Linked DNA regions of Homo sapiens: region 1 is linked to region 2. The links come from fine-mapping of genetic effects on gene expression. Tissue or cell type: tibial nerve. Region 2 holds a variant in brackets; the other region holds the start of a gene. All regions are shown on one strand. Distances are between the middles of the regions.

The links. PIP is the estimated chance that this variant, and not a neighbour inherited with it, causes the effect.
Region 1: it holds the start of NAGK, and the variant in region 2 is fine-mapped to the expression of NAGK in tibial nerve (GTEx, PIP above 0.99).

The regions. Positions count from the first base shown.
Region 1 is chr2:71,064,191-71,072,190 of GRCh38, reverse strand. NAGK (N-acetylglucosamine kinase) reads right to left here and starts at 3,543. Exons shown (of 10, transcript NM_017567.6): 1 at 3,479-3,543; 2 at 1,605-1,689; 3 at 1,352-1,450; 4 at 364-505. The coding sequence starts at 3,507. RefSeq lists a silencer at 3,258-3,317.
Region 2 is chr2:71,464,960-71,473,219 of GRCh38, reverse strand. DYSF (dysferlin) reads right to left here and starts at 6,521. Exons shown (of 56, transcript NM_001130987.2): 1 at 6,287-6,521. The coding sequence starts at 6,377. The variant G/T (reference allele first, on the strand shown) is at 3,628.

The DNA of each region.
Region 1 (8,000 bases), 400 kb after region 2:
GATTCAAACACCAATCCCATGACACCAAAACTCTTTACACTATCACAAGGCCACCCCACTTCCTCCTCAGCACTGACAGCTTCCCCAGCCTGCCTTCCTCACTACACCGCCCCCAGGTGGTCCCTCATCTGCAGGGGAGTTATGTTTGACCCCACTCCTGGATTCCCATCAAGAGACCTTTCTTGCCCTTCCTCCTGCTGCCTGGTCCTTGCTCTGGCAGAGACTTAAACTACTTAAAGAGTTGAGGGGAATATAAGAGTGGCTGCCTTCTGGATATTTGCAGAACAAGTTTTGTCAGCTATATCTAAGGGGCTTTCCCAAAAAAACCAGTTCTCACTCTCACCCCTCCCTCCACTTCCTCACCATCCGGTGTAGCTGTGGCGATGGAGCCGGCGGCATCGGTGGTGATTAAGTAGCTTTCACTCAGGTAGGGAAATCGGTCCCTCAGCTCCTCGATCAGGATCCTCCCCGCGTCCTCCTGGTCCCCACCGCTCAGAGATAGGCCCTAGGCCACGCGGGAGGTGAGCGAGTGTGCAGAGCCCCAGCCCCAGCTCTTTTCTCAACCCCCGCCCCCTCCTGATGCCTGATTCCTGTTCTCCCCATCTGGCCATACCCTGTTCACCCAGCCCCAGTCCTCCTTTCTCCCCACACAATGACCCCTCAGAAGGCTGTGGTTATAAGAACAACCTGGACTGGGGATGGACAGAAGAAAGAGGGGATTCAACAATGCCAGCTTTGGAGCTTGGAAGGGCAGTAGTGCTCTTAACAGAAAGATCAGGCAGCGGGGCAAGGTGAGGGGAGATGGAGAGAGGTAAGCTTGGTTTGGTATACACGAGGTTTGCCTGTGTCTGCAGAACATCTCACATATATGTCCAGGGAGTAGCTGGAGCTACCGCAACTTGGGAGAAAGATCTGAACCAGGAGTAAATAATAGCTAACATTTAATGAGTGCTTATGGGTCAGGCTCTATACTAACCACTTTGCAATGTATCATGCCATTTTACTTTCCCAACAACTCTGAGGTAGCTACTATTCACATTTTCCAAATGAGGAAACTGAGGCTTAGAGAAGGTGAGTAACCTACACAGGGTTACGCAGATACTGAGCAGCAAAGCTGGGATTCAAACCAAGGTCTCAGCAGCTCTCCAAAGCCCTGTGCTCTTCCAACACATTTGTAGTTTGTAGGTGGCAACTGAAGCCATGAGACTGGGTGAGATTATGACAGTTTTGACACCAGGGACTAAGTCTTGGAGGTCTTTCCCTCTGCAGTCATCAAACTCATCTAGTCCAAACTTGCTAGCTGTCTCAGTGTCACAGATGGCTGAATTCCCAGGCTCCGCCCCAGACTCACCAAGCTTCGCAGCGGTACCAGAGGATCCACCCCTGCTTTCCGTTTGGCCCTGTTCACCATCTCATTGATCCTCTCCACACACTTGTCTGTCCCGATCAGCTGGCCCCAATCAAGGGAAGAAGGAGTTACAAAGGCTTACAGAAGCTATGTTGCCCCCACAGGCTGCTCTGTGAGTCCCAGCCACCACCTCAACAGGAATTACAGAGAATAAAATCAGAACCAAGCCCTCTGATCCCCTCAGTGTGGTTTTTACCCAGTGGTTTGTGCTCAGTCCATCTGCTTCTGCCAGGATCTTCCCATCCTCTGAGACTAAAAGGACCTCGGATCGTGTGCCTCCCCTACAGAACACAAGAGGGCACTTGATCTTGCTCGGAAAAACCCACAGAGAGAGCTAAGCTTGTGCTGTCCACACTGGCAGAGCCCAGTATGATGGAGGAGACAGCTTCGACAAACTCAATCACCACTCCCAAACCCGCCTCTGTGGTTCAGTGTTTGAGTGCTCTTTAACTGAAACATAATTCTCACTCCTCTTCCCTTGGGGATGTCCTCCTTATCCTGCAAGACTCTACTTACGCTTCACCTAGTCCTCGAAACCTTTTCTGAGGTGTGGCCCACCCCAACGAATTAGTTAAGTCTCCGTTAGTTAAACCTTCATAGTGCCTCCAAAGTTATTAAAGTCTCCTCTGTATGAAGTGTGTGTTCAGACGCTTTGTGTCCGCCTCTCACTAGACTTCAAGCTCCACTGGGTCAAGCTCCTGATCACTTACTTACCCTCTCAGAACGAGCACAGGAGCTGGCACAGGCAATGCTCAGCAAACACTCCTAAGAAAAATGGCACATCTCTCTGCTTCCCTCACAATAGCTAAAGACTGCATTTCAAGATCCAGCTGCCAAGGTCTTCAAGACACCTTTGCTAGAAATGCTGACCAGATGGCAGGGTGACTTCATACATACTTAAGCAACTAAACCTTCAAATGTTGATTACTGGGGGTCACAGTAGTTCACAGGGAGATCTGTGGTGATGGGATATATGTTTCTTTATTGATCATTACTTTTAGGAATGGCAGAAGAAGACACTGAAGACCGCTCATCAAACTCAAAGAGGACATGAAATTTCAAGGGGGTAGTTAATACATGAGGTGGCAGATTCCACATCCAAAAGCATGTCTTGACGAACTGGAAGAAACGGGTCATATCTTACAGATGACTATAACAAGGATGAATGCAGACTCCTATACTGTTTTTTTTAAGTGCTACAAATACAGGATGGGAAAGATCATTCCTAACAATTCATGTGAAAAGACTTTGGGGTCTGTGAATCAGCAGTGGGGTGTGGCTGCCAGAGAAGTGAAAACAATCACAGATTCGAAAGTACAGTGCCCTGGCTGAGAGGCCAGCGACCCCCATTATTCCCTGATTTGACAAACTCAGATTCACAGAATGTTGCCACTGGCAGGGACATAGCGATCTTATTTATCCCTATCCTCACTTTGCACATACGGTAACTGTAGCCCAGGGAGGGTAAATATCTTGTCCATGGTCATACCCAGGGGCAGAGCTATTACAAAAAGTTCAGTAAACAAGCTTCTGAGCAGAAAAATGCAATCTAGTGAAAGCAGCATGGAAGGCCAACAGGGATGGAGCGGTTTTCAGACATCAGGACAACCTAGTACTCTGGCTCGCAGCTGCTCCAGCTCCCGGATAACCTCAGCCAAGATCTTTGTCCCGCTTCTCCCCACTCCCACTCCCCACCCTGCCCGCGCTCAGCAATTTCACACCTGACACCTGTTCTGCAAAACTCTGTCCGAGGTCAGGAATAGGAAAAAGGAGCTGCTTCTCCAGCTGAAGACAGCGGAGTGGGTGTTTCGTGGAAGAAAGGGGCGTGGTTCCGCCAAGAAACACAAAGGATCCCCAACCCGGGGTGTGGCTGTTGCACAGGCAGAGTCCCCGTAAGGCATACAGCTGTGCGCTCCAGGGCGCCCCTGCGCGTGCACACACCTCTTCACCGCAAGGTCCCGCCGCCCAAAGTGCCCGGACGCCGAGGATCAAGGCCACCAGCTTGCCAGGCTGGCCACGGCCTTCCGCCCCGCCTTCGGGCCCAGGCTCCCTCCGCCGGGCCGCACTCACCCCTCTACACCCCCATAGATCGCGGCCATGCTGCTGCTACCGTCGCTGCTGGTCCCGCCGTTTGCGTCTCTCCCCGCCTGACACCTCCTTCCCTCCAGCTGTCTGGGCACCGCCCCACTTCCCGTGACCTCCCGCGCAGCCAGCTGACTCCCTGTGCGCGTGCGCATGCGCGGGGCGGGGCGCCGGTAGGAGCCGGGGATGGCTGCGTCCCTCAGGCTGTCTTCCTTCTGGTGTCTCCTCCAGGTGGAGCGACTGCGGTCCGCAGCGGCCCCTCCCGTCCTCCTGGATCCTGCTTCCAGAGATGGACACTAATCCCAAGAGGAGGAATCAAAGAGGGGTATCTAGGTCGGTCGGACCCTTAGGACACATCACTGACCTGCCTGCCTGTAAACGCCCGGAAGTTGCTGGCAGTCCCGCGTTAGGTTGCGCGTGCGCACTGCTCTTGGCCGCGTAGGTTGTGACGCATGCTCGGCCAGACCCCCGCGAAGCTGTGGGCTCAGGGACCTGCGCCCATGGACCTGTAACAGAAATTACTGTAATGTTCTACTGAACATCTGCCACGCGATGGCGAGTCACACGGGCACACACGAACACTCGCTCAGATTGTTGCCCTGCGCTCGTGTGAATGTACGGATCCGGGAGGAATTGGGACCTAAACAGACAAGCCCTCGAGGCGGTCCCGGCAGCCCTGAGGAGGGAGCCTTCACCTCTTCCTACCCACCCAGTTTACTTCTTGTGGAGGATATTTGCAGGGACATAGCCCACTGGGAGAACTAGCAGATACGGCTTTACAAGTTTTTTATTGCCTTTCAGCCCCCATTCCGCTCCCCTTCCTTGCGCTGCGTCGGGAAAGGGAATGGGATCCCTAGGGGTGCAAATACAGGCCAAGTCAGGGAGAGCTGTGGCTCCTGAGGGCCTCCTCTGGCTCCTCCGGGAAGTTTTGGGCCCTCAAGGAGCAGCTTCGCGGGCCAGGAGGGCGGTTAGCTGCCCTTGGCATCTTTTTGGGGAAATCAGTTGGCCTGTCGCGGGTCGAACTCTGTCCCCCTTGACTGCCTGCCATCTTCTGGAGAAACCCCTAATAGGCTGCTGTGTCTGGTTATGCTTTAGTGAGAAAATTAGGCTTTTTAAGCTTTCTCATTTCCTACCCTACCACGTTGTAATTCACAAAAGTAAAAAGTAAATCACTACATGATAGACTCTGTATCATGTATTCATTTATAGAATATATATCATATATTCTATATCAGATGGAGAATATAATAGAGGGTAGGATTTTTTTATGCCTGCCTATGGCATTTTTTTAATTCACAGCACTTTAGAGCTGGAAGATTATCCAACATACACATTTTTAGAATTACAGTTAGTAGATTGTGGTGCAATTAAACTGGGCAGGATTTTTGGAGACTAGATTGTAGGTGGATTTTGAAATAATTGTTTCTGTCCTGTACTACTGCAATGAGCCATGGGACGTATGTGTATAAATATTAAGTTTGTCTTTGTATTGCTTGTTTAGGCAAGCAAGCAAAAGGGAAAGTGCCCAGGTTTAAGACAAGAATTGAGTTCACCATTTACTAGCTGGATGAGCTTGGGTGACTTACAGGTAATTGCTGCAGCCTCTCCTCTACAAAATGGAAATGATAAACATCTACCTGCTGGGGCTGACGCAAGATTTAAATGCCAAAAGAGTTTTGGAAACCATAAAGTACTTCACAGATCTTAACTAACTTGTATTTACATTACCAATTAGTGTGTGCTGTCCTGCACAGTATCCATATGTGAATACTGAGCACTTGAAATGTGGTTAGTCCAAAATGAGATGTCCCGTCAATGTAGAATACACACAGGATTTCAAAGACTTACTACAAAAAAAGAGTGTAAGATACCTCATTAGTCACTATTATATGAATCACATGTTGAAATAACATTCTGGATGTAGTAGATCAAGATTATAGATTACTAAATTTTGCCAATCTATTATATTTTTTAGTGTCACTACTAGAATATTTAAAATTTTGACCTACATATTTCTGTTGTACAACCCTGTTGTCTCTATCTGGACCATAATATTTCAAAGTCACTGAATGCCTATTTATGAAATAAATAATGGCCATATAATTGATTTAAAGAAGAAAGTAGCCGGGCGTGGTGGCTCATTCCTGTAATCCCAGCACTTTGGGAGGCCGAGGGGGTGGATCACCCAAGATCAGGAGTTCAAGACCAGCCTGGCCAACAGGGCGAGACCCTGTCTCTACTAAAAATACAAAAGTTAGTTGGGCGTGGTGACAGGCGCCTGTAATCCCAGCTACTTGGGAGGCTGAGGCAGGAGAATCACTTGAACCCAGGAGGTGGAGGTTGTGGTGAGCCAAGATTGTGCCATTGCACTCCAGCTTGGGTGACAAGAGTGAAACTCCGTCTCAAAAAAAAAAAAAAAAAAAGAATAAATAAAATACGTTTATGTTGTACATTATAATTCTTTTTGTTTGTTTGTTTGTTTGTTTGTTTTGAGACAGAGTCTTGCTCTGTCGCCCAGGCTGGAGTACAGTGTGGCGTGATCTCAGCTCACTGCAAGCTCCGCTTCCCGGGTTCACGCCATTCTCTTGCCTCAGCCTCCCCAGCAGCTGGGACTACAGGTGCACGCTGCTACGCCTGGCTAATTTTTTGTATTTTTAGTAGATACGGGGTTTCACCGTGTTAGCCAGGATGATCTCGATCTCCTGACCTTTTGATCCGCGTACCTCGGCCTCCCAAAGTGCTGGGATTACAGGCATGAGCCACTGTGCCCGGCCTTGTACATTATAATTCTATAGAGCTCTTTTATGTACCTTTATCTTGTTTGATCATCCTAACAACCTTATGAGAATGACAGATTTTTTTTTTTTGAGACAGAGTTTCACTCTGTGGCCCAGGCTGGAGTGCAGTGGTGGGATCTCGGCTCACTGCAACCTATGCCTCCTTGGTTCAAGTGATTCTCCTGCCTCAGCCTCCCAAGTAACTGGGACTACAGGCATGTGCCACCACGCCCAGCTAATTTTTGTATTTTTAGTAGAGACAGGGTTTTACCATGTTAGCCACACTGGTCTTGAACTCCTGACCTCAAGTGATCTGCCTGCCTTGGCCTCCCAAAATGCTGGGATTATAGCAGTGAGCCACCGCGGCAGGCCGAGAATGACAGATTTCTGATCACATATTACAAATGAGGAAACGAGAGGCTCTAAAATAAAAGTAAAAAGCATAGGCTCACACAAATAATAGATGTGGCTTATTATGTGTGGGTAGTTAATATAAAGGGAAGGAAATTCAAGATGTTGCAATATAGCAAGATATACCAGTTTGCACTGGGCTTGCAACATCCCAGTAGCTGCTTCTATGACACTCACAAGGTTAATAAAGTTCTTTAAGAATCTGCAAGCCACAGTCTTCTTCTCTGTCTTCTGTACTTTGTTCCTATGACCCCAGGGAGGCCATAGTTTGGGAGTCAGGGGGAAGAGTGTTAAGAGAGACAATGGGAAAATATCTTTCCTCACAAATCCACTTAGGATTTTGGGACAGATGACTTTTGGTCAGGGTCCTCAACAGATTTTGTTGACTTTATTCATGAAACACAGCCACATCTGTTTTTACTCACCACAGCATGTCCAGGGCTAACCTCAGTACTCCACAAATAGCTTTGAGAGTGGTTTATAAACTATAAACACGGTGTCACAGACATGAGGGGTAGCAAATGCCTGATTTGAACTAAAGAAGGGAGCAAGCAAATTCCACAGCAGAAACTAAATTTACAGAACAGATCAGGAAGAGAAAGAGAAAATAAGGAGAAGTGAAATTGTGAACTGAGGGAGGAGTTGTTGGACGTGTGGTCAGGGAGCCTCAAAGAGATCTAGCCCTAGTCGGTCTTGCATTAGAAGTTGCCAGTACATGTGTGACCTCAGCACTGTGCTTTAAAATAATCTGGCAGGTTACTTATAGGGTGACAAATGGGAAGGGAGAGTTTGGAGAAGGGAAACACTTAGAAGGCTGGACATTGGCCCAGGTGAGAGATGAACAAGCAAGTGGTGGAGGTGGAGGTGGAGGTGGGGGGCAGAGCTGGAGTCACGGAGGGAGCCAGGAGGGGGGTCATACTAACATCTGCTGTTGATCTGGGATGAGGAAGGAGAGAGAGGCTGGAGTTCACTTTCCCACAATTGAAAGAGGCAGGGGTGAGGGGCTTCCTTACCAACGGTGGAGGTGGGACTCTGGGGCTGGCATCTGCAAAGCAAGGGAAAGACAGCCTACGGGACTGCCAGGCCCAACCCAGAAGGGACGAGGGGTGCATGGGGTCTTCAGAACACAGAGGCAGCCGTAGACAACTGCTGTAAACGTTCTGTCCTTCAAGTCTCTTCAGCCATGTAAGGGAACTGAAAGAAAAGAGGGACCTTATCTGCCTTGATCTTAAGTTGTTCTGAGGGATGTGGGGCCTCAGGCCAGGGCAGCAACCTGAGCAAATCCGGTTGGTTTACTCCCTCTTCTTTTCTGAGCATGTGGG
Region 2 (8,260 bases):
CAAAAAGCAGAGGTAGATGGTCATTCTGACACCTGCCCTGCCATGGTGTTCTCAGGCCTGGACACCCCAAGAACTGGGCAGCTGTCTCCCCTATCATCAGCAGAGCACTGCTCCTCTCCCCGTCAACCACCCTCCACCCCACCTTCCTAAATCCTAGCTGGAACCACAGAAGTGGCCAAAAAGGGAGGGAGCCAGGGTGAAATGCACTTCAAGAAGAGTAGTCTTTAAACTCAGAAGGCCTGGGGAAGATATTTACATTAGAACTGGGGAAGATATTTACATATAATTTTTACTTGCCAATTAAAGAAAAACAAACAGAACTGGAGAAGATACTAGAAACATCTATGACAAAAACGGTAACATTCTCAATACATAAAGAGCACTTGCAACTAATGAAGAAAAAGACAAACATGCTCCACCATGGGCAAATGAAAAAGTAATTCAGTAAGAATAAATACGAATAGGTGATAACAATGAAGTATCACAAATACTATTTGAACCTTAAGAAAGTGTTGGCTTGGCGCGGTGGCTCACGCCTGTAATCCCAGCACTTTGGGAGGCCAAGGCGGGTGGATCACGAAGTCAGGAGATCCAGACCATCCTGGCTAACATGGTGAAACCCCGTCTCTACTAAAAATACAAAAAATTAGCCTGGCGTGGTGGTGGACGCCTGTAGTCCCAGCTACTTGGGAGGCTGAGGCAGGAGAATGGCGTGAACCCGGGAGGCAGAGCTTGCAGTGAGCCGAGATCGCGCCACTCCACTCCAGCCTGGGCGACAGAATGAGACTCTGTCAAAAAGAAAAAAAAGAAAGAAAGTGTCAAAGATTTACAGGACAATGCTGTGTGTTAGCAGGATTATTAGAAAAATAAGCCCTCATACTTGGCTGACAGGAGGATAAAGTTGATACAGACTTCAAGAACAATTTGGGAAATGCAGCAACGCATTAAATCTGTCTATAACCTCTGACATAGCAATTCATCTTCTGGTATTTACCCAAAGGAAATAATTAAATATGTGGCCAAAGATGTAGTCACCAGAATATGCCTCACAGTGACTGTATAATTTAAGCACTGGATATAAATATAAACACTTATATAACCTAAATATTCATCAGTAGGGGGTTGAGTAAATTAATGATGGTGCATCCATATAAGAAAATATTACGCAGATATTTATAAAGGTGTTATAGAAGAATACTTACTGACATAAAAAATGACCCTGGATTTTTTTTTAATTAATTAATTGATGTTTTTGAGACTGAGTCTCATTCTGTCATCCAGGCTGGAGAGCAGTGGTGAGATCTCGGCTCACTGCAGCCTCCACCTCCTGGGTTCAAGCGATTCTTGTGCCTCTGCCCCTCAAGTAGCTGGGATTACAGGCACACACCACCATGCCTGGCTAATTTTTGTATTTTTCAGTAGAGACAGGGTTTCACCCTGTTGGCTGGCCTGGAACTCCTGGCCTCAAGCAATCCGCCCACCTCAGCCTCCCAAAGTGCTGGGATTACAGGCGTGAGCCACCACACCCGGCCCCCTGGTTTATTTTTCAGCAAATGTGCAAACATTTGGGAAAAAAAAAATCTATGATGGGATTACTTCTGGTGGAGAAATGGGGCTGGCCAGGTGCTATTTCTTGACCTGTTTGACCTGGGTGATATTACATAGTTATTCTCTTCACACACATATTTATTCTCAACCGTGGCATGATTACTATGTGGGCTGAATCACTCTGTGGTTGGTGTGGGGGACCTCCCCTTGCACTGTGGAATGTCTAGCAGCATCCTCAGCCTCTACCCTGTAGATAAACACCCTGTGCCCCCAACCCCTGTGGCAACAACCCAAAATGTCTCCAGACATTGGCAAATGTCATCTGAGGAAAAAACTGCCCCCAGTTGAGAACTACTGTATTAAATCATATATTTATATCTTCTGCACTTTCCTTGTATGTTAAATTTTATAACTAAAATTTTTAAGAAAAAAAATCTTGGAGGAAATGTGTCAAATTGTTAACAAGTTAATTCAAAGTGGCAGGATTTGGGGCTATTTTTTACTCTTGCCTCATGGCCTTTCTGTAGTTTGTCATTTTTAACAGCAAGTACATATTATGTTTATAAAAAGAAAACAGGCTAGGCGGGGTGGCTGACACCTGTAATCCAAGCACTTTGGGAGGCCAAGGTGGGTGGATTGACTGATGTCAGGAGTTTGAGACCAGCCTGGGCAACATGGTGAAACCCCATCTCTACTAAAAATAAAAATAAAAATTAGCCAGGCATGGTTGCAGGTGCCTGTAATCCCAGCTACTCGGGAGGCTGAGGCAGGAGAATCACTCGAACCTGGGAGGCGGCGGTTGCAATGAGCCGACAACGTGCCATTGCACTCCAGCCTGGGTAATAAGAGTGAAAGTCCATTTCAAAAAAAAAAAAGAAGGAAGGAATGAAGGAAGGAAGGAAGGAAGGAAGGAAGGAAGGAAGGAAGGAAGGAAAGAAGGAAGGAAGGAAAGAAGGAAGAGAAGAGAAAGCTCTTTTCTTTTTTTTTTTTTTTTTTTTGAGATGGAGTCTCACTCTGTCACCCAGGCTGGAGTGCAGTGGCTCAATCTTGGCTCACTGCAACCTCCGTCTCCTGGGTTCATGCCATTCTCCTGCCTCAGCCTCCCGAGTAGCTGGGACTACAGGCACCCACCACCACACCCGGCTAATTTTTTTTGTATTTTTAGTAGAGACAGGGTTTCACCATGTTAGCCAGGATTGTCTCGATCTCCTGACCTCATGATCCACCCGCCTTGGCCTCCCAAATTGCTGGGATTACAGGCGTGAGCCACCACGCCTGGCCGCTGTTTTCAATATTTTAAGTCATTTGTAATATGTAAACAGCTAGGTTCAGAGAGTCCGGGGCCTTCAGCCCACTTTCCCTACATAGGTGAGTTAAGAGTGTTCCCTGACGACAGGAATCCACCTCCAACTAGTTCTATAAGATCCCCCAACTCCTGCCCCAAATCTAGAGACCCCCAGGAGATCAAGAAGAGAAGAGGTGGGAGGGGGAGGCTGGAGGAGGAGACGCCCTGACAGGATGAGAGAGAGGGAAGTGTCAGTAATGACTTCTGGGTTCCTGGCTGATGACACAGGGCAGAAATTCACCAAGTGGGGACGCAGCAGATCTGGCCTTCAAGGAAATAAGATGTTTCAGCTTTAAAGCAGTAGGGATCTGGTTTTGTTCTTGTATGCATCCAAGCACCTAGAAAAGCACCAGGCACGTAGTAGGTACTCAGTAAATATTTGTTCAATGAACTAACTGCATGAATAGAGGGATATAAATAATCACATTAAGGAATGGAAAATGGGCAGGGCAGAAAAGAAGTACAGACAATTAAATGCTATAGGAAATTAAGCTGCTCGTTGACACAATCAGTCAAAAATATCTACTATGGCCCAGTTACTCATGGTAGTTTTAGTTAATGAATTAATTAATAGAAAAACAAAAGAATGAGAAGTATTCATTAGTAGCCTCTACTATTAATAGAGGTGCTTAGACAGGGAAGCCAAAAAATTGCCCTCAGAGTCCAGCCTCCCAGAGCTCATAGTCTATTTTGGGAGGCAGGTCCTGAAATTACATCCGAGACAGGGAACAACT[G/T]CAAGGAAAGTGGGGCCAGCCCAGCCCCATACATTTCAGGCTGCCTGTAGGAGCCAAACACACAGTGCAGGCTGGCTTCTCTGCAAGCAGGCCACTGTCCCATCTGTGCCATGAGGAGCTGGGCTCAGTGGTTCTCAACCCTGACTGCACATTCAAAACACCTGGAAATTTGACAGAAACAACACCTATGCCTGGGGCCCCACCGGAAGGGATCTGGCTTCAGAAAAGGCAGGCAGGGAGGTTGGCAGTGGTCTTTGGTGAAGCTCCCACACACAATGTTGACCTGCAGCCAGAGTTGAGTCCCCCCAGCCTACATGCTCTGTAAGTTCTGAACCTGGTTCTAACGGTTTCCCTCCTTAGGCATCAACTCAGCCCCAAACTCCCCAGTGAATGCTCCCGCAATGGGGAGCGCATTAATTTCACCTGCCATCACATCTCAGACCCATTTTTCCCAAGATGCGGTTCCAAAATAACCTGCATCGGGTATTTGTTAAGTGCTGATTCTTAGGTCACCTTCCAGACCTGCTGCATCGGAACCTCTACAGATGGGGACTCTGGAATCTGTTTCTCAAACACGTTCTACAAGTGATTCTCAGGAACAATCAAGTGAGCGGACCATGTCCCAGACTAAATGAAGCTCCCAGGCACACCTGGAGGATGGCTAGAGGCTGGGCCAGAAAGCGCACAAACACTAGAGAGCACCTACTTGTGCTCAGCACTGGGACAAACCAATGAACAAATAGGACAGGTCACTGCTCTCAAGGCACCTAAGCATGGAGCTGAGCACAGGCCAGTCAGGGCGAGGGTGCTAGCATCCCTAGCAAGGTGCTGCTGCTTGTCATCCAGAGAGGAGAGACTCTTGAGAGCCAGGGGGATCCAGGGTGTCCTCCTGGAGAAGGTGGCATTGCCCTGGGCTTTGAAATACAAATAGACTTGAAACGGTTGGAGATGTTACATTCTATTGTATGGTATTTCTGTTTTCCGAGGAGATCATCAGTGCAAATAAATAGTAAGGCATTACAAAGAAGGAATACAGAGATCTGGGGGGAGATAGCAGCTGCACGTGTTCGGGGTACTTGGGCGAGGGCAATAGTAAAGAGGGGCCTCAAGGGATTTGGTCATCTTCCCGACTCAAGGGCAATACCCACTCCAAGCGCTGGTAGCTCCCTGCCATGACCACTGACCTGAACACATTTAACTTCCCTGGGTTTCAATTTCCTTATTTGCAGAATGGAGACATTGGTAGCCACCACAGGACTGTTACAGGACAAGGGAAAGAGCTGTGAGCAGACCCAAACGAGTGTTAGAGCATCCAGAGCCCTATGCTAATGTGTGCCCTGCCCAGTGTCCTTAGGGAATTTCTTTTCCAGCCAATGGTGACACCGCAATTTCTGCATAGCAAAGCCTTAGGCAGCATCAGGTGGACACTGGAGAAGGAAAGACTTTGTCTTGAAGTTGCTCTTGCATAGTGAACTCCCAGGCATGTCACCAATCAATGAAAATAGTGAAATTTTCTTAAACGTTTCAAATCACATCTTTCAAAAGAGGAATACATATAACTTGTCCCACAGCAAAGAATAAAAGCTACACATAAATCTCCCTTTGCCAAATCATGTCTTTCATCTATCATTATCTTGGGGGTGCTTGGAGATATGATTCAGATCATGGGTCAGACTGAAAAGAGTTCCCTTGGTGCCTGCACTGAAGGAGGCTTATGAAAACACCAGCTACTCTTCCTTCTTCATTTGACTATCTTTTCTGATACGTAGATTTTTATTATTATTATTATCGATTCCACAAAGCTACAGGGTATGGCTCCTGGCTAAGTGGAAACCCTCTTTCCTCTCCTGATTTATCTTTCTCTGCAGAACTGGGGTCCTGACTCACAGCTATTGTTCCTTCTCTTAATTTTGACAGATCCTTCCTCTTCCCTTTCCCCTCCTGAGACACCCGCTCCAGTGGGAATCTGCCTTGGAGGGGTTGGGGGAGGGGGTTCAGGACGCCTGGTGAGAAGAGGAGTGTGTGTGTGATTTCTCTGCTGCCCCACACAGAAATACCTGTATGTATTCTAAGCACTACATGTAGGGACTTAGCTTCTTGAATTTAGAGAAAATATCCTTGACATTCCTCAAAACTCCTTGTGTCAAGGCCATTTCCATCCTATTCTGTTCCTTTTCCTACTGATTAAGACGGGGCAGATTCAATACAGCCAATGTTGGATAAAGATGGGTGAATGAATGAATGAATGAATGAAAAAAGACACAACTTTCAAAGCACATCATCTACACGCCCCGTTTTTCAGAGGCCCTGATTCCTCTCTACCTTCTGCACCCATCTTCCAACTTACCCTTATCCCCACTACCCAGTAAAAGCTCGGACTTTATTTCCTCTGGGTGTCAGTCTTAGAAAAGTGATAACCGCTGACCTACGGCACTTTCGCTTTTCCAATTTTTCAAAGCCCTGTGGCATTTATTGTGCTCTGCTTATTCCTCATCGCCCCCCTGCAGAAGTCGGGGCTGGGATTTCCGTCCCTGCTGACAAAGGGAGAAACTGTGGCCTGGACTAGGGTTAGCTCCGGAGCAGGGGCTTCAGACCCGCCAGTGAGCGCCGAGAGTCGGGTAGCACCCGAGCATGGGCGCGGCAGCCACGGGGCTCTCACCTCGGAAAGTCAGGCTTGCGACAGGGTCGCTGCGCCGGTCCTTCTTCGCACTGGGGAGGTTGCTGGCCCTCACCAGCAGGCAGCACAGCATGGCTGGGCAGCCCCGGCGGCACACAGGCGCGCAGTCAGGGCGGGAGCGGGAGCACCGGGCCCGAGCACCCACCCAGCAAGCGCCCGGCTCCCAGGCAGCCGCGCCAAGAGAGCTGTCGCCTTCGCTGCTCCTCCGCGGAGAAGTGACCAATGCCTGGGAGAGGCTGCAGGGAGGACACCGGACACCCGCTGGGCGGACCCTCCCCCTCCGGCCCCTACCCAGATCCGCCCTGCCCGCGGCGGGCGGGGAGGGACAGGGGTCAGACGGGCGCCTGTGGGGGTGCTGGTCCCTAGCTCCGCGGGTCCCAGCTCCCGGCCAGGAACGAGGCGCCGCTGACGCGGGCGCGCAGCTCGGCCTCCGAGAGCGCACAAGGCGCCGTGGGGCCTGCTCCGCGGGGGCCTCCGGTGACCAAGGCTCCACACCAGCCAGGGATCCCGGGCCCGGTGCGCACCGGTGCCGACTTGGCAGCCGCCCTGTGCGCTCGACGAAAGGGTGAGAAGGAGGCAGGAGTGCAGGCGGAAGGAGTGGGCAATCAGCGGCGGGGACGAGAGTGTGTCTTCGGGGAAACCAAGTCTGAGTGAGCGCTGAAGGGGGAGTGTGCGGAGCGTGCCGTGCACCCCGAGCCCCCCGCCTCATTGCCTCTCGCCTCTCTCCACCTGCCCCATGATCTGCGCCAGGGAGCCGGTCCTCTCCCGTCCGCAGGCTGTCTAGGTGGCCGTTCTGGTTTGCTGGGACCCCCGGGTCGGGAGAGACTCCGAGGTTCGAGTCCCCACCAACCCTCCTCGGAGCCTTCTCCGCAGCGGTGTCGAGTCACTCATCTCTGGAGGCAGAGATCTGTATTCAAATCATACTGCGTTCCCTGGAGAACTAGGGTCCAGCTGCGGCCCATTCTGTCCCCTGCAAGTCCCCCATCCCCAACAATCTCTACACTCCCTAGTCTCCACAGTGGAAAGCTGTTCAAGGTGTAAGCCATGAACGGTGACAGTCGTTTCGCTTATTATGTCTGGTTCCTTTCCAGCGTATGAACTTCTTGACACAGGGGCCCTGGCTTCGCACTTCTATCCCCCAGCACTCCAGCACCTAGCCCCTGTCAGGGCACTGTCCGTCTTCCCACCGCCCAAGTCCTCACTAACCAACCTGCTCACTCAGCCTAAACGCACTGCTGCGCAAAATCTCAACTCCCTTTCCCCTCTCTTATTTTGAGGGATACAGCATTCTCACAGGGCTAAGCCATAACCCTGGCGAATCCAACTCCGCCTCCTCCACACCTGCCCCCAACCAGTGCTGTGTTGGAGAGTAACACAGCCGGCCTGAGTGGTGCCTTTTGTAGTCATGACCCTTAACTCAAGCGAGCCCTCACTGCTGGGGGCAATCATACTATATGTCTTGTCTCCCTGTCTCCCGGATGCCCCTAGGACACCCCATCGCCCAACCTCACTCTCAGTTTGCTTCCTCTTTACGGAGCAGAGAACTTCTTCAGGTCCCCAGTCTCCTTCTAACGCCCGCCCTCGGCATCTGTGCCCAAATCCTGTGAGTTCTCTCCTGTTCCTACAAATGAATCACCCGTACTCCCCACTGGTAACAACTGGACACTTGGGCATAGACCCCATCCCCTCTCGCCCATTCAGTGGTGAGCCTGCAGTGATTCTCTCACTCTCTTGCCTTACCAAGTTCCCCTGTTTACCGGATCATCCCATCGGCACACAAGCATGATGTTATTGCTCTCAAGAAAGCACACCGTTGACCCCACATCCCCTTCAGCTACTGGTCATTTCTCCCTTTTCACAACAATGCCCTTTGAAGGAGCTCTCCATACTTTCTGTCTCCAATCTCCCTCCTCCATTCTCTCTTGAACCCACCCAGTGACACCTTCAACCCCACCA